Homo sapiens: one gene and its partners. The protein of the gene in region 3 purifies or fractionates together with the protein of the main gene of each other region. This does not show direct contact. Each region holds a gene or a part of one and is shown on either strand. Other genes may lie near its edges.

The links.
Region 1: the proteins of MBNL1 (region 3) and PICALM purify together in Homo sapiens (affinity purification with mass spectrometry; one large-scale study listed by BioGRID and IntAct). This does not show direct contact.
Region 2: the proteins of MBNL1 (region 3) and NSDHL purify together in Homo sapiens (affinity purification with mass spectrometry; one large-scale study listed by BioGRID and IntAct). This does not show direct contact.
Region 4: the proteins of MBNL1 (region 3) and SEPTIN8 purify together in Homo sapiens (affinity purification with mass spectrometry; one large-scale study listed by BioGRID and IntAct). This does not show direct contact.
Region 5: the proteins of MBNL1 (region 3) and PKP1 purify together in Homo sapiens (affinity purification with mass spectrometry; one large-scale study listed by BioGRID and IntAct). This does not show direct contact.
Region 6: the proteins of MBNL1 (region 3) and TREX2 purify together in Homo sapiens (affinity purification with mass spectrometry; one large-scale study listed by BioGRID and IntAct). This does not show direct contact.
Region 7: the proteins of MBNL1 (region 3) and FAM162A purify together in Homo sapiens (affinity purification with mass spectrometry; one large-scale study listed by BioGRID and IntAct). This does not show direct contact.

The regions. Positions count from the first base shown.
Region 1 is NC_000011.10:85,958,880-85,961,084, reverse strand, and holds part of PICALM (phosphatidylinositol-binding clathrin assembly protein), read left to right. Parts: intron 1-307; coding exon of another isoform or gene 308-400; exon of another isoform or gene 401-410; intron 411-2,024; coding exon 2,025-2,039; 3' UTR 2,040-2,205. UniProt on the Homo sapiens protein: Cytoplasmic adapter protein that plays a critical role in clathrin-mediated endocytosis which is important in processes such as internalization of cell receptors, synaptic transmission or removal of apoptotic cells.
Region 2 is NC_000023.11:152,851,563-152,855,062, forward strand, and holds part of NSDHL (sterol-4-alpha-carboxylate 3-dehydrogenase, decarboxylating), read left to right. Parts: intron 1-3,500. UniProt on the Homo sapiens protein: Catalyzes the NAD(P)(+)-dependent oxidative decarboxylation of the C4 methyl groups of 4-alpha-carboxysterols in post-squalene cholesterol biosynthesis. Also plays a role in the regulation of the endocytic trafficking of EGFR.
Region 3 is NC_000003.12:152,429,429-152,432,928, forward strand, and holds part of MBNL1 (muscleblind-like protein 1), read left to right. Parts: intron 1-3,288; coding exon 3,289-3,492; intron 3,493-3,500. UniProt on the Homo sapiens protein: Mediates pre-mRNA alternative splicing regulation. Acts either as activator or repressor of splicing on specific pre-mRNA targets. Inhibits cardiac troponin-T (TNNT2) pre-mRNA exon inclusion but induces insulin receptor (IR) pre-mRNA exon inclusion in muscle.
Region 4 is NC_000005.10:132,767,240-132,770,739, forward strand, and holds part of SEPTIN8 (septin-8), read right to left. Parts: intron 1-3,500. UniProt on the Homo sapiens protein: Filament-forming cytoskeletal GTPase. May play a role in platelet secretion. Seems to participate in the process of SNARE complex formation in synaptic vesicles.
Region 5 is NC_000001.11:201,328,506-201,330,997, reverse strand, and holds part of PKP1 (plakophilin-1), read right to left. Parts: intron 2,237-2,492; coding exon 2,162-2,236; 3' UTR 2,130-2,161; intron 925-2,129; 3' UTR 1-924. UniProt on the Homo sapiens protein: A component of desmosome cell-cell junctions which are required for positive regulation of cellular adhesion.
Region 6 is NC_000023.11:153,443,973-153,447,441, forward strand, and holds TREX2 (three prime repair exonuclease 2), read right to left. Parts: upstream 2,085-3,469; 5' UTR 2,037-2,084; intron 1,524-2,036; 5' UTR 1,459-1,523; coding exon 748-1,458; 3' UTR 501-747; downstream 1-500. UniProt on the Homo sapiens protein: Exonuclease with a preference for double-stranded DNA with mismatched 3' termini. May play a role in DNA repair.
Region 7 is NC_000003.12:122,387,182-122,390,681, forward strand, and holds part of FAM162A (protein FAM162A), read left to right. Parts: intron 1-3,500. UniProt on the Homo sapiens protein: Proposed to be involved in regulation of apoptosis; the exact mechanism may differ between cell types/tissues.

The DNA of each region.
Region 1 (2,205 bases), on a different chromosome or scaffold from region 3:
CATACACACATTAAAATTCTTAACCATGGGTCAGCTTATATCGACCTTTTGGGTAAAAGACATTATTCCTTTGAAACTTCAGAAGCACGAGTTTGTTTTCTGAAAAACACATGCCATTGCATACCTTTTAACTTGACATATGACTGAAACTTTTGTCTTAACAATCCATTTTCTACAAAGACTGCCCTTATATTTATTAAAGATGACAAAACCAAAACCACTTCTTCTTTCATACATTTTCTGCTTTCATGTTCTGTCATTCTGAGATCTTTTTTTCTTTCCCTCTCTCTGTCTTCTTTTCCCCCAGCTGTCGGCAGCATCCAGCCCCTCCAGTCACAGTCCTCACAGAGCTTCAGGAAAGGACCCCTTTGCAGAGCTCTCTTTGGAGGATTTCTTATAAATCACTTTAGGTATTGCTACTTGTTTTGGGAGATGGGGACTTAAATACTTAAAAACAATTACCAAACATTAAACACAATTCACGCTTCTCTTTCATTTCTTTAAAGGACTCTAGGCTCCCTCTCCTCCTCCTCCTCTTCCTCTATTCTTTAGGTGCAGAATGAAAAGATAGGACATAAGGAAAAACAACTTTTGGAAAATATCTGTAACATAATTATTTAAAGTAATCTCATCCACTGCTCACAGTAAATGGATGAGATCGGATAAAGTTTGCTTTTTAATTAAGGGCAAGTGAATACTTAAGCCCTTTCGATTAGAAGGATTCTGCATATGATCCACACTGCCTCTGTTTGCTGGAAGACAGTGTAATTTGTTCTTCTTGATGCTCTAGCCCCCAGTTTAGATATACCTTCTAGATCTTTGGGAGTTTATAGTCTTCTGATTTGGCAAGTTTATTAGCACATCTACTTCAGTAATCTTTGGATGGGCAGTTTAAGGGAAATTGTGAGTGAAATATCTTTGAATGAACAGTAGTACCCTATTGAAAAATATTTTTATGGCTCTTTCAGGTTCTTATTTATGTTAATAAAAAGACTTAGTATAATATTACTGTTCCCTTTATTGTCTCTAATTGTATATCATTTGGAAATAATATTTCAAATTTTGCTTCCCAAATGAGATTTTGCTTGTGGTATTTGTGCTTATGGAGAGATTTTTCTGAACTTGTCATGAAAAAATAGGTCATTGATCTTCTTTCTTTTCCTCCTCCACATGCTATTCCTCTATTTTTAGCAGTTAAGTATTTGGCCTGGATGTGGTTGCTTATGCCTGTAATCCCAGCACCCTGGGAGGCTGATGCGGGAGGATCACTTGGGGCTAGTAGTTCAAGATCAGCCTGGGCAATACGGTGAGACCCTAGTCTCTACCCCCACCCAAAAATTACCCAGGTGTGGTGGCGACTGTCTGCAGTCCTAGCTATTCAGGAGGCTGAGGCAGGAGGGTTGCTTGAGCCCAGGAGTTCCAATGAGCTTTTTTTTTTTTTTTTTTTTTTTGAGATGGAGTTTCGCTCTTGTCTCCCAGGCTGGAGTGCAGTGGCACGATCTCAGCTCACTGCAACCTCCACCTCCTGGGTTCAAGCCATTCTCCTGCCTCAGCCTCCCGAGTAGCTAGGATTACAGGCGCCCGCCACCACGCCTGGCTAATTTTTGTATTTTTAGTAGAGACGGGGTTTCACCATATTGGCCAGGCCAGTCTCGAACTCTCGAACTCACCTCAGGTGATCTGCCCACCTCAGCCTCCCAGAGTGCTGGGATTACAGGTGTGAGCTATGGTGCCCAGCCATTGAGCTTTGATCATGCCACTGCAATCCAGCCTAGACAGCAGAGCAAGACTCTGTCTCAAAAACAACAACAAAAAACATTATTTGGAAGTCCCTATATGTGTCAAATATTGAGCTTTCTGGCACATAAGTTGATAATACTGACTTTGTTTTATAAACAGGGTTTGTGATAAGCATGTTGTGAACACTTCTGGGCCAGTTAAATGGTAAAGACCACAAAGCATTTTTATTTATGAGAAGACATCCTACAATACAATGAATTAACATACCCACTTTTTTTTTCCAGATACAGTTTATGTAACTTGATGGAAGAAAATGGAATTACTCCAAAAAGACAAGTGCTCAAGCAGCAAAATCCTTACTTCCAGCAAAATCCAAACTGCTGTCTCTTAAATCTCTTAAACTCTCTTCTTCCATTAGAATGCTACAAGTAACTCAGTGAAGGCCCATGAAGGAAATTGGGACTA
Region 2 (3,500 bases), on a different chromosome or scaffold from region 3:
ACGGTTGTTTTCTCTCCCGTGCTGCCCACACCTCCAGGCCTGGAGATGGGGTAGACATCTTTCATGCTCATCATTGCTGCCTCCGAACCGTTCTCCCTCATGCTGCTCTAAGCCTCTCCAGCTTTGAAGAGGATACCCTCAGACTGTACAAACCCCGACACCGTTCCCTCCTTGTGGTGGCCACCCACAGCCGCCTGCTCCCCTTCCCAGTGACTCCACATCATTTCTCAGTGATTTCAGCTCCTTTCTGGCATTATTATTGGTGAATTCAGCGTTCATGTAGATGACCCTACCAATGCCCTCGCCTCTCTCATCCTTGGCCTCCTCTCACCCAATGATGTTGCCCTCCACTCCCCTGTCATCACCAGTAAGCACGTCCTCTCCTTCTTCTCAGTTGCAGGCATTCTACTCTGAGCACTAGCTCCTCTCTGTCCAGCTCATGCCCTCTAGTGCCTCAGCTGTCCCGATTCCTTAACCCCACCCAGACATCCAGCCATGCCCACCATGGCTCAGCCTGTTCGTGCCTCACTGCCTTTAGTTCCCTGGTCTGCTTGTTCGCTTGCATAGTCTTCACCCCTTCCCCTTTCTCTTCTGGTTGTATGTATCCATAAAGTTTCTCCAGAGAAACACCAGCAGGGGGATGTGTGGAGAAGGGCAAGGAGAGAGATGGGTGGGTGAGACGGAGAAAGAGAGGTTGAGATTTAATTCACAGAATTGGTTTACATGATTGTGGGGGCTGACTAGGCAAGTCTGAAATTTGTAGGGCAGACCAGAAACTCAGGCAGGAATTGATGCTGTGGTCCCACGTTAGAATTTCTTCTTACAGAAACCTCAGTTTCACTTTTAAGGTCTTTGAACTGAGTATATACTGCCTGTCCAGAGTAGCAAGGGTAATCTCCTTACTTAAAGTCAGCTGGTTGTAGATGTCAACCACAGCTACAAAATACCTCTACAGCAACACCTACACTGTTTAATGGAGTCACCGGGGACTAGAGCCTGGCCCAGGTGGCAAATAAATGTGGCCACCACAGTGTACTTCACATTGTAACCCCCACCCTGGTTAAATCTTGCCTTGTGCATGGCCATGGCCCTCAAGCAGACCCTTGGTACCACCAAGCACCATCTCCACAAACCTGCCCACATCCACGTCTCTACTCAGCCTCCCCTGCTGTTCCCGAGGACGCCTCATCCCCACCAAAGTGCCCATCCTGGTGCCAGCTGGAAGCCACCTCCTCTTCCCTACCCAGTCACTGCCACCAGGGACCTTGAGGCAACCATATCTGGTGGTTGAATCTCAGTCCTCCTCTGACTTGGCCCTGTAGCAGCATCTGATGCTTTCTTTGCTTGCCTTCTGAGATACCACCTCACTCATTTCTCCTCCTGCCTCACTGATTGTCTCCTGATCACTATCATTTCTAAACTTTGCAGACTCCAGAACTTATTCTCTTTTCTTCTCCAAGTTTAGACAGTGTCACAGTGACTCCATCCCATCTCATGGATTAATTACTGTCTAGAAGCTGATGTGCTCCCTGCTTGTTATCTCCAACCCCTAGCTCTCTCAGGCACGTGTGTGTGTGTGTGTGTGTGTGTGAGCGTATGTGTGTGTATGCCTGCTGGACATCCCTGTTTGGATACCTCATGGACACTTCAAGCTTGCTACATCCAAAATTAAGCTCCTGGTTCCCTGACGCAAGCCCCTCCCCCACCACAGCAAACCTATTTCTGCTAAGTCTTCTCTATCTCCATAAATGGCCTACTCTGCTTTTCCAGTTCCATCAACCAAAAACCTTAGATTCATCCCTGCCCGATTCCTTTCTCTCTCATGCCCTTCATCCCATCCATCAGGAAATCTTGTTGGCTCCACTCAGAATAGATCCCCAATCCAACAACTTCTCACCCCTTCCATTGCTGCCACCCTGGTCCAAGCCACCATCACTGTCTCACCTAGATGTTAGAGGGACTCTTAATGGATAAATCAGATCACACCGCCCTCTGTACAGAAGCCTCCAGTGGCGTCCAGTCCCATGTCAAGCAAACAGAGGCCTCTGTAATCACCCATGAGGCCCTGCACGGCACGTCCCCACTACCTGTCTGGCCCACTTCCTCCCACACCCGCCTCATGGCTCTGCCCCAGGCACACTGGCCACCAACCAAGTTTCTGCCTCAGGACCTTTGCACTTGGTGTCCTTTCTGTCAGGAATGCTCTTCCTGAACCACAGAACTTGCTCCCTAGCTTCCTGTAAATCTCCAGCCACCCTGTGCTAAGGAACAGGCCCCCGCTGGTCTCCCTTACTCTGCTCTAGTTTCTGCATAACACCTGCCAGTACGGACGTCCTCTAGATTTACTTGTTTGTTTGCTTATTTGTCCTGATTGAAACATGATTGACCATGAGCGGATACAGAGCAGAGGAAATCTCTGAAATTTGTCCTCTCTACCATAGAATGTAAACTCCACAAAAGCAGGAATTTTGTTTTTCGATCACTGCTTTGTCCCCTCAAAGGAGACGAGAATCCTTAGCAAGCTTTCACTTCTCTCCAAAAGGCTCCCCCGCTGCCATGCTGTTGTTGCTAGTATGTTATTTCAGCTTTCCTTGAGTACAGATTTCAAGGGAACCCTCCAGCATGCCATGTTGTTCTCCAGCCACACTCAACTGCTCAGCCGCAAGCGTGGAGAAGGGGCGAGTTGCATTTAACCAGGGTTGGAGTTTACTAGACAAATTTAATAAAGGGAGAGGGGAACAAGGCAAAGGTGGTGCTGGTGGATCATGAAATCTAAGCTAAGTCCAAGGTCGATGTGATGTGGGTGAAAGACATGGCAGGAGAGGACCTTTTTTATTTTATTTTATTTTATTTTATTTTTATTTTTATTTTTTTAGACATAGTCTTGCTCTGTTGCCCAGACTGTGGCACAATCTAAGCTCACTGCAGCCTCCGCCTCCCAGGTTCAAGCGATGCTCCTGCCTCAGCCTCCCTAATAGCTGGGATTATAGGTGCCCACCGCCACACCCGGCTAATTTTTGTATTTTTAGTAGAGATAGGGTTTCACCATGTTGGCCAGGCTGGTCTTGAACTCCTTGTATCAGGTGATCCGCCCGCCTCTGCCTCCCAAAGTGCTGGGATTACAGGTGTGAGCCACTGCGCCCAGCCGAGAAGGACTTTTAAAATGTACTTTCACCTGGGTGTGGTGGTATGCACTTGTAGTCCCCCAGCTATTTGGAAGGCCAAGGTGGGAGGATCACTTGAGGCCAGGAGTTCAAGACTAACCTGGACTACATAACAAGACCCCCCCCATTTCTTTTTTTTTAAAAATGTGTTTTTATAGTCAGTAGAGAGAGAGAGAGAGAGAGGAGAGAGACAGATATACATACATATAGATAAAGTTTATGTATATATAGTTATATAGTTTTATACACACAATATGTATTACATAACACTTTTTTTTTTTTTTTTGAGACGGAGTCTTGCGCTGTCGCCCAGGCTGTAGTGCAGTGGCGTGATCT
Region 3 (3,500 bases):
TATGTCTTTCAGGAACAGAGATACTTACAAATCATTATCACAAGAATATAGTCAGTATCAAATATACCAATTACATTGTTATATGTTATCCTTCAGAGAAAACAGGATGCCACTTGATAACAACATTGCATTAATATCTGTCTTTGAGATTCTGCTGAACCCCCTGCAGGTTAGCTTTTGGAATAGAAAACTGGCAGTAGTGCAGGTCAAGTGCTTTCCTAATCTGATTTCTCTGATTAGGGCACTCTCTGATGGGGCTAGCAGTGACCTATCTTCAACATGGCGCTCCTTGAAAAAACAATATAACTAAAGTGATGTAACAAATTTACAAAAATTTAAAATAAATGAAGGAATGGTGTGTGTTTGTGTGTGTGTGTGTGTGTGTCTGTCTGTCTGTCTGTCTTTTGGAATCAAGTTTCAAAGTATAAAGCTATTGTTACTGATTGTCTGCCTGTTCGGCAAATAGCTCTACTTATCGAAAGAGGGAACAATTTGAGATAGTGCTTGCTGAATAGTTGATGTTTCACATTTTTAAACGCTCCTACCGACTTTACTTGGGGACAGTGCCCTAAAATTGTTCAGATTTGAATTTGCTCTGCTGAATTAAAGTGAAAGATCAATTGTCTTGATGACTCTATAGAAACAACTCAGGAAATATTATTGCCAGTTATTAAAAGCAGTATTTTTACATAATAAAAGTATTATTCTGCCTGTAATGTGCAACAGCTGCATCATATGCATTTTTAGATTTCCAGTGTATTTTATTTGACGAGATTTAGAGAGCTGAGTTTTATTAGCCTCTGGTCTCATTTTATTAAAATAAAAATTGCTTTTTCTTCCAAAAACATTTTTAAATTTGACCTTTGCTTTTAAATAATTATAGTAGATTATGTGCAATAATATAAACATCTCAATAACTTTCTGAAGTATACATTAAAAATGCACTATCTGGAAATACATGTTTATTCATAGTAAAAGAATGCAAAGAGGAATGATAATGAATAGCTTCTGTTGTCCATTTGCTAAACTAGTCTGTTAGTCCCCTGACATAGACTCTTTTAGTCTTCTATGCTAAATTTCTTATAATTCTTAAATGACTAATATAGAAATTAGGGTGCTGGTCTGGCTGGATTTTCATATGCAATCTGACAATGTATAACAAAGTACAAGTTTAACCTGAATATCCTTGAATAGAAATCCAAGTTCAACATATATTCAGTATACAATCAATCCTTGTCCTGCTGTCACCTGGGCAGAGAGTGGACAGTGGCACAGCATTAAGTCAGCTGCGGCTCAGGGAAGTGTTGGTGGACAGAGAATGCCCTAGGCCCTAGTTTCTGACAGCTTGTTGATAAGATTTGGAATGCACAGATAGTTCTTGTTGTCTGCAGGTTGCTGCTTTGTGCTGGGAGGGGTTGGGGATTAGAGGTGCTACTTGAGGGCACTTCATCAGGCAAGAGCCATCGACCTGGCAGAGCAGCTAAACATGGCATTCAAACCAACATGTTCAGAGGCATAATTATTTTAAGTTGAAATGGTATAATCTATATTGTATTGTTTCTTCTCAATGAATCACATTAGGTATTACATATTCTGTTTTTTCATATTTTTGTTAGTAAAAATGTATAGCTAAATGCAAAGAGTTTGTTTCCCAAGCAATTTTTGAGGTCAACAGAAGAGTTCCCTAAGAAAGGCCTTCTTAACATTGACAGTATTGACTTTTGGGGCTGGATAATTCTTTGTTGCGAGGGGCTGTCTTGTATGTTGTAGGACACTTAGCAGCATCCCTGGCGTCCATCCATTGAATATAATAGTTCCCCTCCAGCTGTGACAACCAAAAATGTCTTTAGACATTGCCAGGTGTCTCCTGAGAGGCAAAATAACTCAGTTGAAAACCACTGCCCTAAGAAAAAGGGAATACTTGAAATTCATTTTATTTTTCTAAATATAGAATCAGGGCCAGAGTGAATAGAGGATATATTTTATCTTTTAACAAATTTCTTTTGTACTATAAGAATTACATTTGTAATATATACCTTATATTGCAAAAAGTTTTACTACAGAGCTCTCTTGAATACTACATATATTCAGATATCATGTAACTTCTTATTCCTGTCAGATGGCAGAATTAGTTATTAATACATTCTAATGTCTCTTTTATTCTAAAGAGTCTTCTATAATTCTGTTCATTACTGCTGAGTAAAGAAAATAAATTGTTAAATATTACCTTAAAGAACAGCATCCGTTTTGCCTACAAGCTTTTGTGTTTCAGAAACAAACATTATTAAACGAAGCATTAAACTTCAAGAATTAGAATTGAGACTCTATTAGGAAGTTAAAAATGTACTATGAATAAGGTATGAAATTGTGTTCTGTTATACTTTAAATACTAGAAAAACAAATTGTTAGATTTCAGGTAAATTAATGCTATTCAAGAACAAATATATTTTATGATATGCAAGTTTGCATATCAACAAATAGAAACAATCCTTATATATCCACGAAAGCATTTCTGGAAGAAATTCTGTCTTGTAGCAGTTTATTCAGTGCTGCCATATGTATTTCCTTGACCAATCATGTAGCATTTCTTTAGTAGCAGTTCTACTTCAAACTTCACATTTCAGACTTGTTTTCCCCTAATAAGGTGTGATAGGCTAGTGGAACACTTATAATTTCCCCCAGGAAAATCACCATCAAGTAAATATACCAAACACTTTATCTTATGTGCTCAAAAGGCAAGGTGTCATCATCACCTTTCACATACCCCATGAGATTTATTTACAGCTTACATTGACTGTGAAACTCTTTTATCCCCTGGGAGTTCTACTTTATTTATTCCAGATAATAGGACACTTGCAACCTATTAACAGTTGTAAACAGGTCTTTCAAGTACATCTGACATAGCAATTACAAAATGTATTTGTTAGACAAATATCTAGAATTAAATCAGGACAAAGATGAAGATTAGATGACCACAAGAAGTTTCTGCATAGTTTATCTATTTTTCAAAAAAAAAATACAAGTATTATAGACCCTCAGCTACAAAATTCCAGTGAATAATTTAATGGATATTTTACTTATTATATTTTAGAAAAACATTGATTTGATGAATGTTTATTTAATAAAACAGCCTTACCCTAAATGATAGTAAATGAACACAGGATTAAAGGGAAGGAGGGAAGGCCTAAGGAAGAATGGATAGATGGATGGAGGACAAATGTATAATTAAGAATATCAACTTTGAGCTGAGACCTGCATGTTAAATTTTGCTTTTATTTTATTTTTCAGCCAATGTTTTCAGTTGCACCAAGCTTAGCCACCAATGCATCAGCAGCCGCCTTTAATCCCTATCTGGGACCTGTTTCTCCAAGCCTGGTCCCGGCAGAGATCTTGCCGACTGCACCAATGTTGGTTACAGGGAATCCGGGTGTCCCTGTACCTGCAGCTGCTGCAGCTGCTGCACAGAAATTAATGCGAACAGACAGACTTGAGGTAGGAAT
Region 4 (3,500 bases), on a different chromosome or scaffold from region 3:
CCACATAAAAGTAGTTAATGAAGCCTAGGAGGTGCTGGGTCAGGTCCAAAGCCCTTAGCATGGTGTTCCAGGCCTTCCTCACTGGCCTGGTTCCAGCCCAGCTGGTAACTCTGAGCTCTCTTTTCAAACTCTGCCCCTCCCCTCGGCTCTACAGCTACTCTACTTTTCCCTTGGCACCCACTCTCACCTGGCCCCCAAGCACTTACGTTCCAGACCCCTCACTTGGCAGTTATCCTGTTTCCTAGTACTACTGGTTATCCTTTTTTAATGCATCTTGATTCTCCACCTATTCTATAAGCTTCTAGATGTCGGCTGCAGGTTGGGGAGGTCAGGTTTTCTGTTCTTCCTTCCCTCCCATTACTATGCCCAACATGCTGGACAATGCTACCATTTATAAGTTACTGAACACAGCCTCCAACTGCTACGGCATCAGAGCACCTGCCCACCTTACACAGGGCTTCATTATTTAGTCTCTGTTCCACCTCCTTGTGTCGGCTTGAGGATCAAATGGAGGACACAGTCGGTCTAGAGCTTTTTTCTTTTCAGGCAAGACTGAAAATCTCCAAAATTTAAGGCGTGCTGTGCTTGCAGAGAAGGCTATGTGTTTATTCATCCTCTTCTTCCAAGGGGTGACACAATCAGGATGCAATCCAACATCCTGTAGTCTGCCGCCAAACCCCACCAAGTCAGCTGTGTCTGGAAACCACACACACACACACACACACACACACACACACACACACACACGCAGCCGCAGAGCACTTACTGAGAAGCAGAGGCCATTCCATTCCTGTTTTCCCCCACTTTCTTACAGTTCTAGGCCCCAGAGGCTAAGTGTAGCACTGGGGGTTCTTGGGGTGGGTCTCACATAAACCACCTATCCACACACAGCAACTGCAGAGTGGCCTCCTCTCACACAGCTTGGCTCTCTCTGTGGAAGTGTGGGGTACAGGGAGGTCATCATCCCTAAGTTGTTACCCAGGCTACACTCTGTTATCGCAGGGGCCACACATCTGGGGCAATACCTGTTTAGGAGCCCCGGGGACCAGTCAGGGGTATGAGTCTATGGAGCATGCATGCACACACACACGTACACACACAGAATGGCCACTGGCCCTGATGGAGGCAGTGTTGTTACCTGGTCCCAGGAGACTGATCTGACCTCCAGGCTTTACCGAGGGGTAACTCTCACTAATGCCAACTCCCTGATCATAGATTTGGCATCGACATGTGATCTAAGTTGCATTGCTCACTCCAGGGTGCCTGCTCCAGGCATCTCTACCAACCTGAGTGGGGTTACAACCTAGGAGGAACCAGCAGCCCCTGAAGGACCTCCTGCACATCTCAGCTACCATGACTCAGAAATAAAGTCAGGTGACCCAGTGGCTACCAGCCCTGCAATTTGGTGGGTGAGACCACAGCTCCAACTCCCAGGGTGGGAGCCCATCAGCGTGATGCCATGATCGGTGCAAGTACAGGCAAGTGACGCAGGTTGAGCCTTTATGACCATCTTGAGACCATTAGGGGAGCTAGCCTAAGGCTGCAGTCTACTCACAGGATGGCAGAGCCAAGAAAATCACAGAGAAAAGAGGGAGCCAGAGTCTGCCCTATCTCTGGGCTTTTCCCCTTCCCCCTGGCCATATCCTCTTTATTGCTGAGGCTAGTTGAGTGGTATTATCTATTACTTGCAACTGAAACATCTTCGGTGCCATAGGATCCAAAGTAAAACTCTTTGGATGCAGAGGAACAGGGAGAAAGCGAGGAGAGCCAGGAAAGGAGGGACAGTGTGGAAGGTAAAACATCTCAGTATTCACAACCAAAGGAAGGAAGGGACGTCTGGGATGATACCAACACCTCACTGAGGACCACCATGTGTGAACTAAGCCAAGTGATTTACACCCAGGCTCTCACTTGGTCCTTCCTCACTGTGGATGACAGACTCCATGATTATCCCCATTTTACAGGGGAGGAAACTGAAGCACACAGAAGCTAGGGAACTAACCAGGGCAGAGCAGGGACCTGAGAACAGACCAAGCTCTTGTCCCAAACCACTCTGCTACATTGCCTCCCCTGTTCTTAGCAGGCTTCCAACTCATTCATTCAGTCACTCAACACACACGCACTGGACATGTCTGCTGTGTGCCAGGAACTGAGATGGCTGCCAGTGAAAAGATGAGGACATCAGATCCTTGACCTCAGAGGGCTAAGCCTAAACTCAAATGCCTTTAGAAGCCAGGCAGGTAACATATATAGGTGAAGGGGAGCAGCACCTTAATAACAATGGCAACAACAACAGACATAACTAACATGTATTGCATGCTTGCTTTGCGCAACCCTAATTTAATCTAATTTAGTCCACACATCAGCCCTATGACATAGGCCGTAGCAGCCTCCCCATTGTCTAGATGAGACAATAGAGGCATCAAGAGAGTGTGTAATTTGCCCAAGACCACACTGCTCAGGAGAGCAAAGCCAGGATCTGAATGGAGACAACATGACTGTGAAACCCACACTTCTAGTCACATCACTCCCCGCCTGCTGGATGAAAGACAGCCACTAACTTGGCCAAGCGTGGGGGTTCCCGGGGAGAGGTGGGAATGGCAGAGAACTGGAGAGCCTGTGCTTATGCTCAATCCATGGTGGCCACAGTTCCACAACGCCAGCCAACTGTGGGAACACAGATCTAGTGTTGCCAAATCTTCCCGTTTTTAAAGAGAACCCAAAAATCTCTCTCTATATATACATATATATATATATATATATATATATATATATATATATATACACACACATATATATATATGTGTGTGTGTGTGTGTGTGTGTATATATATATATATATGTATATATGTATATATATATGTATATATGTATATATATATATATGTATATATGTGTATGTGTGTGTATATATATATATATATATATGTATATATGTATATATATGTATGTATGTATTTTTTGAGACACAGTCTGGCTCTGTCACCCAGGCTGGAGTGGTGTGATCTCAGCTCACTGTAACCTCCGCCTCCTAGGTACAAGCAATTCTCATGCCTCAGACTCCCCAGTAGCTGGGATTACAGGCACGCAACCACCACGCCTGGCTGATTTTTGTATTTTTAGTAGAGACGGGGTTTCACTATGTTGGCCAGGTCGGTCTTGAACTCCTGACCTCAGGTGATCCACCTGCGTTGGCCTCCCAAAGTGCTGGGATTACAGGTGTGAGCCACCATGCCTGGCCCAGAAATCTATATTTTTATGTGAAATTCTGTAATTTTTAAAGATTGACAACCAATACAAACTGAGAATACCATGAGGGCCCAATACAACATGTCAGGGGGCTGGTGTGGGCCAAAGGCCTGCTGGTCTGTAAGCTGGCTCTGGTGGGAGGGTGAGCTGGACGGACCCTGCAGCCAGGCTCCATTCTCAAGTCAGGAAGCCCCATGGCAGACTGCTCTGTGGGGAGGAGCCTTCAGGCAGGACAACTTAACTTGGACCCCA
Region 5 (2,492 bases), on a different chromosome or scaffold from region 3:
AAGAGCTGCAATAAAATAGCTTTTCTTAAAAAAATCATTTTTTACCTTCTTTCTCCTGCAACAAGTAGATTACAAGACCTCTGAATGCAGGGCCTTTGCAGGCTGAGCCTGCTCTGATGGGCACACAGCCCAAGAGGGTGGAAGGCACCATCTTTCAGCTCCTACTCCTCTGAGCAGGCCTCATTTGGCAAAGTATGCGAGAGTGTCCTGCTGTCCTCTGGAACCCCACACCTACCCAACCTCAGTCCTTGTGGCGCTGCTGGAGGGGTGACATTACAGACACCCCAGATTCTCCCATGAGATACACCAGACCTCCCTTCCTGGAAAGCAGCCTTGTAAGTGGGGAGGCTGGCCCAGCCCCAGTTACTCCTGCACCCCTGGAGACCACTGGTAGGAAGCCTGCAGGACTCCTCTGAGGGCCTGACTGCAGTGATGGCCCCCTTGCCCTGGCACCACACATTTCAGGAATTATGAGCAGCTCACCAAAAAGCACATGTTGTCCTTGCCTATGAGTAAGAAACACAGGAGAGTCCTTTTCACCACCTTATGAGCTGCAACAAAATAGCTTACCTAGCTTTTTGCAGTTTGTGGTTATGCTTTAAGACACTCACACACACACACATGCACGCGCACATGCATGCACACACTTACATTATACACATATATATACCATTTCTCAGAGGAAGAAATATTGACATCACATATAAGCCCCTTTAACTCAAGAAAGCCCCCACCGCCCCAACCTCCCTAACCCCCATTGCCTGCCAGTTTCCCCAAGGAAAAAAAAAATCTAAAAATCTTTCCACTATCCACAGTTTTTAGGTTTCTTCTCAGTTTCTTGTGAACTTTCCCAAATACTGCATAGGATGGACAGAAAACCCCATCCAGCGAGGCCTGAGGGCTTCTCAGCTGGGTCATATCTTCCTGGAAAAGGAGAAAGTCCTCCAGTTAGTGTTTACAGTGAGATGTTTCCACACCACAAGCCCAGCCTGTACTGCCACCCTCTTCTCACATCGGCCCTCAAGTGTGCCCTGGCCTGAGACTGGATTCAAGGCTGCCCTAGACACATTTATAGATTGCCCTGTGGATTCAGAAGCTTGTCAGCTTTGTCTGCCACCCTGCCACAGTGTCCCCTGCCCACCGTCTTCCTCACTAAGAAAGAAGGTGGTGTTCATTAAGGATTTGCCAAACCGAATCTCTTTCCCCTTTTCTGCCTTCAAGTTGTTGCAGCTTGTTTACTAGGAGAGGATATCTGAAGTCTTATTTAACCTTCATCCAGACCAAAGTTACAGTCCTCTCTCCCCACCAGGGATTGGGGTGGGGGGTGCTGGCAGACAGCCTGGTTAAGAGGTCCCCCTTAGCTCAGGAGACCCTGTCTTGATCCCAGGCTATTTGCAGATGGCTCCATGCTGGGCTGCCCCTGAGGCCCCTCTCTAGGGGTGATGACATCTGGCTGGAGTATCTCTATTTGTGATTCTCAGTTTACCCGCATCAGAAACACTTTAGACGCTTGTTTAAAAATAGACTTTCCTGGATCCCACTCCAGGGCTATTGAGTCAGAATAGCTGGGGCTGGGCCAAGTGTGTGCATTTTAGCAAGCAACCCATATAATTCCAATGAACACTGAGGTTGGCAAGCCTTCATCATAGGATTGGTTCTGAGTTTTGGGGGCCTAGAATCATCAGCTGGAAATAAACTTGTCCACACTGGGCATGTGCAGAGAGTGGAAAGTGAATTATAAAAGGATAAAAAAGTGAGCTGTGTATGGCCAAGCCCAGAATGACATATTCTAGAACTCCAGTTATCCATATTGTAGAACTCACTGTAGTCCATGTGAAGGGCACCACCTGTGTTGTTCAGTGTACAACCCACACATTTGTACCTAGCAGTCCTGCCCAGACCCTCTGACCCCTCTGAAACTCCCAGGACATTATACACCCCTAACGTCCTGAGGGTGGGACAAACTACGCCCCCAGCCAAGCAGTCTACACAACTGCTTGTGTTGTCCAGAGCCAGGCAAAAGGATGCTTCTGTGTCCCTGGGAGCACAGGCCTAGCCCTTGTCTCTGAGACTGGCTGAGGCTGTTGCAGTGGTCCCAGAGGCATCCCTGAGGGTGGGGTGATTCTTACCTGCAAGCCTAACTTGCTTGGACAGTCTCTTCTTAGAATCGGGAGGTGAAGTTCCTGAGGCTGTTGGCCCCAGCTAAGGTTCCCAGCATGTTCCTATCGAAACCTTGCTGCAAAGGGAGAAACAGCAACCAAATGACACAAAACTGTGTGGGGCTTGCTGTGGGGTCAGACACTGTCCACTGCCCTCCCAGAGCAACCTCGGCTCACACAGCCTCTCTCTTATCACTAAGTACATGTGTCAGGGCGAAAACTGGCCTCAGTAACTGTGTAACAAAACATAATAACTCTCCATGAGTCGGTGCAATGTGTTTGAACTTCCACTGACACATGTGAATTTCCTACTTGCATTTGCAGAAACCTGAG
Region 6 (3,469 bases), on a different chromosome or scaffold from region 3:
ACAGCACCAGCCACCCCACCTCTGCTCCGTGCACCGTCAGGGCCCTTAGCATGTACATGTACATGTGCATGCCCACATGTGGGGGCACCTCCCTTTTCCCCAGCACCCCGTTTCTTAACATTTCACCCTGTTACCACTTCACAGAGCAGGGACAGAGACTCCAGGTCCCACGGCGGGCAAGCGCTGCAGCTGAGCTTTGTGCCCAGGCAGGCGGCCGGCTCTGTGGGCTTAAGGCCCTACTCATGGCTTCTTTGGGCCTCTGGGGTGACAATGCAGATGGGCGGCAATCAGCCCACAGCCACAACCCATCAGCCCTCAGACCAACCCAAGAGCTTGACGTCTCCCTACCCAGCCACCCACGGTCCTCACCGCGAGGAGAGGCCATAGGGGGGCGGCCCTGGAGGTCTTGTGCTGGCCCCTGGCATGGCTCACCGCCTGGCCCTGCTCAGCAGGGGGTCGAGGGAGTCCAGCCCCTAGTATCTGGCCAGCTAGTCGGAGGGTGAGTAGTTGGCAATGTTTATTGGGAAACAGCAAACTCTGCTGGGCACCCAGGCCAGCCGGGAGAGCACGGCCCTGGAAGCGGGGCCTGGAGAGGAATCCAGGGCCGTATGGCTGGTCAGGCAGCCAGGGAAGGCCTGGCAGGTGCACGGACCTGAGGCTGCCCAGATAGGAGGAGCCGGGGGTGGTAGAGGCCAGCTGAACGGTGGAGGCTGGCACTGTCCATGGCACAGGAGGTGGCCCTGGTGCTCAGGCCTCCAGGCTGGGGTCATCAGGCGGCAAGTACATGGGCTCGATGTGGGCCCACCCACGGGCCTGCTCATCGGCCCAGGCGAGCAGCTCTGCGGCGCGGTGCAGGAAGATCAGGAGCAGGGTGTGCACGTCGCCCTCGGCTGAGTGGGCTGCGCTTGGCTCTGCCCGGAAGTAGCGGTGGAAGAGGCTGCCGAGGCTGTAACCCTGGCGGCCCCGGGCCCGGGTGCCGTGGCTGTGGGCGCGGTCCAGGCCCCGCAGGGCCGGCAGCGTGTCCAGGCAGACAGTGTCCCGGGGCAGGCGGGCACCCAGGCGCCGCAGCTCGGCACACAGCAGGGGGAAATCATAATCAAAGCCATTGTGGGCCACAAGGCAGATGGGCCCTGCCTGGCGGCTCAGGAAGGCCTGCAGCGTCCGCACCACGGCGCCATCAAAGCCAGCCTTCCGGCATCGCGCCAGGCCCTCACTGCTCAGGCCGGTGATCTCGCTGGCCTTGGCAGTGAAGGGGCGCTCCGGGCACATGCACAGCGTGAGCTTGTCCAGGACCCGGGGCAATACTAGGGCACCAGACTCGTCGTGCTCCGGGTTCTCCAGGGAGGAGCGGTGGACAGCAAAGAGGGACAGCTCGGCAATCTCGGGCTCCACACTGGGGAGCCCAGTGGCTTCCAGGTCCAGGAAGACAAAGGTCTCGGCCCGGGGTGCCTCGGACATGGTGATGTTCCCACGGGGATAGCAAGTCCTCAAACTGTCCGAGCGAGAGGCACAAACCCTGAGGACTGGAGAGAGGGGTTCGCCCGGGCCCTGCTGTGTACCATCCTCCCCCTAGCCAAAGCTCTGACCCTTCTGGGGCTCACTTCCTGCCACCCCCGACCACAGCACCTGTGACCTTTGGCTCTGGGAGCGTCAGCCCCACTCCTGTCACCTACTGAACAGAAAAGGCAGGCCTCAGAGCGCTCTACTGCCTGCCTCCAGCCACAGTCCCCAGCAGGGATTGGGAGAGGCAGAGGCAGCTCAGGGACCGCACCTTGGCGGGGTCCAGCCCCTTCACCGGAATGCCTTGGCTGGGAACCTGGGGCATAGCACACTGGGTCTCCAGCCCTGGAACCAGCTGCCGGGAAGCAGGCAAGCAGCCACCCGAAAGAGCCCATGCAGTGCACCCAGCTCCCGCTGGGCTCGACCTCCCCACCCTTGTCCCTGGCACACAGGTGCTGGTCCCGAGCTGGCCTCTGCCTGCTTGCCCCCAGGCTCCCGGGGAGACTGTCCTTGCCAACCCCACCACACCAGCTTACCTGGGGCGGGCACTGACCGGCTTCCTGGGCTTCTGGGCACCTGTCGCCACACAGGCTGCTCTAGGCGGCCTTTAATCAGCGGCCGCAGCCCGCCCCCAGCTGCCTGTTGGCCAACAATGAGGCCTGGGGCCTCAGGACCTGCGCAGCCGGCTCGCTCGCCACCCCCTCGCTAGCTCACAGCCACTGAGACACACGCCCCGTGTTTACAAATTAGGAAGCAGGCCCCGAGCTCTTCACAGGCACGGGGAGGAAGCCAGAGTGGTGCGGAAGGCAGTAACCTCCACCTAGCCAGGCTGTGGCTGCCAGGCCTGGCAGGCCTGGGGTCAATGCCTCCCCCATGCTGGGGCCAATGCCTCCCCCATGCTGGGGCCAGTTACACAAAGGCAACAGGTCCTCTTTGCCAGGCCTCAGTCTCCCCGTCACTGGAGATCAGGTGCCGCTCGTGGGGATGAAGCGAGCTCTGGAGTGTGACCAAGGTGCCCACACATGCCGTGCTCAGCCTCCAAAGGGGAAGGGGTGCTCCCCCAAAACCTAGGGATGGGGCAGCCTCGGGAGATGCTATCTGCTTTAAGGACGTCGCTTCATCATGTCTACCGTGCACCTAACAGTGGCTGCTGGGGAAGGAAGGGAGGTGGGCCTGGCCCGGGAGCTGTGCAGGCCGCAGCTGAGCTAATGCTTCCTCCACCACAGATAAGCAACGTTAGGGGGTGGGCCAGGAGCGCCGGGACTACAGGAGGAGTGAAGCCCAGCCCCTCGGACCCCAGGCTCAGGGACCTGCCCTGTCTATCCCGCTCCAGGCAAAGGGCACCAGGTCCTTCCCGGTCCTGCGAGCAGTGGCGCCCTGAAGACCTCATTCTGGAGCAAGAGACAACAGCCCTTGATGGTGGGTGCACTGCAGGGCCAGCCCCATGCTGGGGGCACAGAGAGGTGACCAAGAGGAGTCCCTTGGCCTATAAATCAGGTGGTGCACCTGCACCATGGTGACCACAGGCCTGCCCGGCCTCCCACCTCTCACAGTGGTGGCTGGGGGATGCCTCAGGCGACTGGGATGGAGGGGGGTCTGGCACCTGGCTCCTCCTGGCCTCCTTGCCTTGTGTGCCCACAGGGACCTTGGGGAAGCAAAGGAGATGGTGCCAGGAGGGAGCAGGGTGGGGCGGGCAGCAGCAGGTACAATGGCCCCAAGGAGGCAGAGGCCCTACCAGTCACGCCTGTTCCGGTACTCACAGGGAGGGAGGCAGCTGTGACAGGCACACTGCTCAGGGAGATACTGGGTCACCCTGGGAAGCCCAGACAGCATCTTCCTGGACAACCAGTCAGGCTGAATTCCCCAGCCCAGAGCTGAGCGCCCAGCCAGGGAGGAGCAGGAAACTGGTACCCCGCGGGGGATCCAGGGGCACTCAAGGAGGGCGGCTGAGGGGTGCGTCTCGCACAGG
Region 7 (3,500 bases), about 30 Mb from region 3:
AAGAATAAAATAGATATAACTTTTAGGATATTGTATCTTTCCACAGAATGATTATTAGTTCAAAGGAATGGAATGACCTTACAAGAATGTTTCTTATTGAAAGAAAGTTTTGCTCCCCTAAACTCTGTTGACTGGTCAGATTTGAAAATGAATTTGTTACCGTCATTGTTACCAATGTAATGGACTATGGGCTGCCTTCCTTTTAGTTTAACCCACATCTCAGAGCATTAGAGTAGAGAGGTATCTTAGAAGTCAGGTAATTTAGTCCTCTAATTTTTACAGATGAGGAAACTTAAGGGCCAAGAAGGGAATCAGCTTGCCAAGGACCACACAGGTACAGACCTGGGACATAGCCAGTATCCCCTGGCTCCCATTCTGATTTTATTTCTACCACATTCTGCTACCTTATTCTTTTTGTTTGTTCTTGCTAACCAAACCTAAATGAGAACGTACGCATTTTAACTACCCCCACATTTGGCTTTACTTATTGCTCCTTTCCAGGTCTTGCCAAGTATTTATTGAGTACACAATGGATGCCCTGTGTGTATACTGTGAAGGCTCTAAAATGAATGGACTGCCCCACTCCTAGGGCTGATTTATTGCAATGAACAAACAAACATATATAATATACCATTGGCTTCAAGAATTCTGAGATTCTTGAAGGCTCCATTGAAATGAAGGGGTGTGAGAGTGATGTGAGCACATGTAGGGGCGGTAATGAGTTGTGAGCACATGTAGGGGCGGTAATGAGTCTGAAAAAGGATATGAGAGAGGAAAGATTACCTTAGGGATTTTGATCAGGAGGCAATAGGAGGTAAAGTGTAGTGTTTGGAGACGTTTGAACCAAATGAATTTGGACCAAAAAAACCTTTTAGCAGGAGAAGTAACACAAGAAACATTTCTGGAAAATTAACTCAGCAACTACATACCAGTTGAATTGCTGCTACCTATGAAGATATTACAGTAACTGATGTGTGAGGTGATGATGGAAATAACGAATATATTTAGGAAGTGTCTTGAAGAAAGGATGAGTTTGGAGATACTGAGTAAGGAAGGACTTAAAGACAAGTTTTTTAATGTTGAGGACTACAGAAGTATTGCCTCATTGTCAGAAATAAGAAAGTTGGAAAAATAATCAGAAACGCCATCAAAGATTTGTGTTAGTTTGGCAGAGAAGATGGTGCATTATTGAGTAGGTTTAGGTGGCACTGAGTTATAGGTTGTGAGAGGTTGAAGACCTGAGGGCAAAGGAAGAGTAAAGTTATGGAGATAAAGATATGGGAGCAATTAGTCTGGAGTTGATTTTTAAAACAGAATGGAGGAGTCCTTCCAGAGAGTAGCACAGAATAGAAGCAAGGACTAAGCCTTGGAGGTGTGACATGGTGTAAATAATAGGAACTGGGAAAGAAGACATTAAAGAAGATTGGTCATAGAGGTTGGAGATGAAGTGAGAGAATTTGGTGGTACAATGTAAGGAGGCATTGAATCCTTGTAGAAAGATGAGATCAGTCGAATCAAATGGCCACAAAAATGGGAAGAGTAGAGTCAGAAGGGCTAATGATGAGAATCTAAAAAAATGTATTCATGACCGGGCACGGTGGCTCAAGCTTGTAATCCCAGCATTTTGGGAGGCCGAGGTGGGCGGATCACGAGGTCAGGAGATCGAGACCATCCTTGCTAACACGGTGAAACCCTGTCTCTACTAAAAACACAAAAAATTAGCCGGGCGTGGTGGTGGGCGCCTGTAGTCCCAGCTACTCAGGAGGCTGAGGCAGGAGAATGGCGTGAAGCCGGGAGGCAGAGCTTGCAGTGAGCTGAGATCACAGCACTGCACTCCAGCCTGGGCAACAGAGCAAGACTCCGTCTCAAAAAAAAAAAAAATGTATTCATATGACTAGAAAGAGGTCACTAATGTTGGTAGAGTAATTTTAGTAAAATGATTGGAGAAGGAAACATTGTAGCAAAATAAAGTGTGGGTGGTGAAGTGAAGTAGTAGATACATGCCATTTATTCAATCATTTGAGCTATGAAAAAGAGGAAATAAGAATTTTATTAATAGTACCTGTTGAGAACAAGTGAATGCTTTGTCCAACATAGTGGACCTTCAGTGTTATTGTAGAGTAATAAGACAGAATTCTCAGTAACTACTAGTAGAAGTTACTGGAGAAGTAGTCAGCCTTTCTGGAAAGTAGTATAGATGGATAGATAGATAGATAGATAGATAGATAGATAGATAGATAGATAGATAGATAGATGAGATAGATAGATGGAAACTTAAAGGGGTTCATACCCTTTTACCCTTCACTTCCAGGATTTTATTCTAAGGAAATAATCAGAAATACCATCAAAGATGTATGTAGAGAACTGTTCATTGAAACATTACTTATAACACTGAAAAATTGGAAAGAAATCAAGTTGTAGGGAATTACTACATTCAGATTATAGCTGTGTGTCGGGTTTTATACAGCTATTAAAAGTATTAATATCTTGGAAAGTATTTGTGACATAGCAAGATACAGTATTATCTGATTATGAAAAATGTATATGTTTTATGTAAGTATAGGAAAGGTCTGAAAAGAAATATTAATGCACCAAGTTGTTATCCCTAAGTGCTATGATTATGAGTGCTTTTATTTTTCTTCACATCTTTTTTTAACTTCCAAATTTTCTGTAATGAGCAAGTGTTACTTTTATCATTTAAAGTTTGTTTTACTAAAAGCTTTTTACATAACATGGTGTGTAACAACTTGGTGGTACAAAGGTTTTTACATAGTGAGACCCGATCTCTACAAAACAAATTTTTTTAATTAGCTAGACATGGTGGCATCTGCCTGTGGTCCCAACTACTCCAGAAGATGATACAGGAGGATCGCTTGAGCCCGGTTCAAAGTTACAGTGAGCTATGATCTCTCCACTGCCCTTTACCCTAGGTGACAAAGTGAGACCTTGTCTCTAAAAAAAAAAATAAGTTTTTTAGTTTTGATTTTAAAGATGGGGGAGATAACATTTGGCAGGAAAAAGGCAGTGGAAAATAAGGATAAGTTTGGTACGACATCCCTCAGCAGAGGGATTACTACTTAAGAATAAAGGAAGACTGGTATTTCTTCAAGCCTGCAGGGAAGGATGAGAAAACGGATATAGGGAGTCTGTTTCTGTCACAAAGCCCAGGTCAACAGCTAAGGCCTAGAGAGTTTCAGATAGACACTCTGGGGAGTGGGTTGTAATATTGATTCTCTGATTCCCAGAGAGTTGTCATATCTCCAGTCACATCACCTATGGTTTTCTCCAAGAGGACCTTGAAAGATTCTGAGAAAGAAAAAGCATCCCTACCTTTCCTCACTGTCTATCATGGGGTTGGAAAGGATATTTATGGAAAGGAGGGGACTACCAGGAGAGAAGCTGGTACTTCAACCAGCCTCACCCTGGCTGACCACTATAGCCTCCAGCTAGCAATGATATTTCTAAGGCACTGGTTTTCAGATTATGGGTCCCCCATAGCA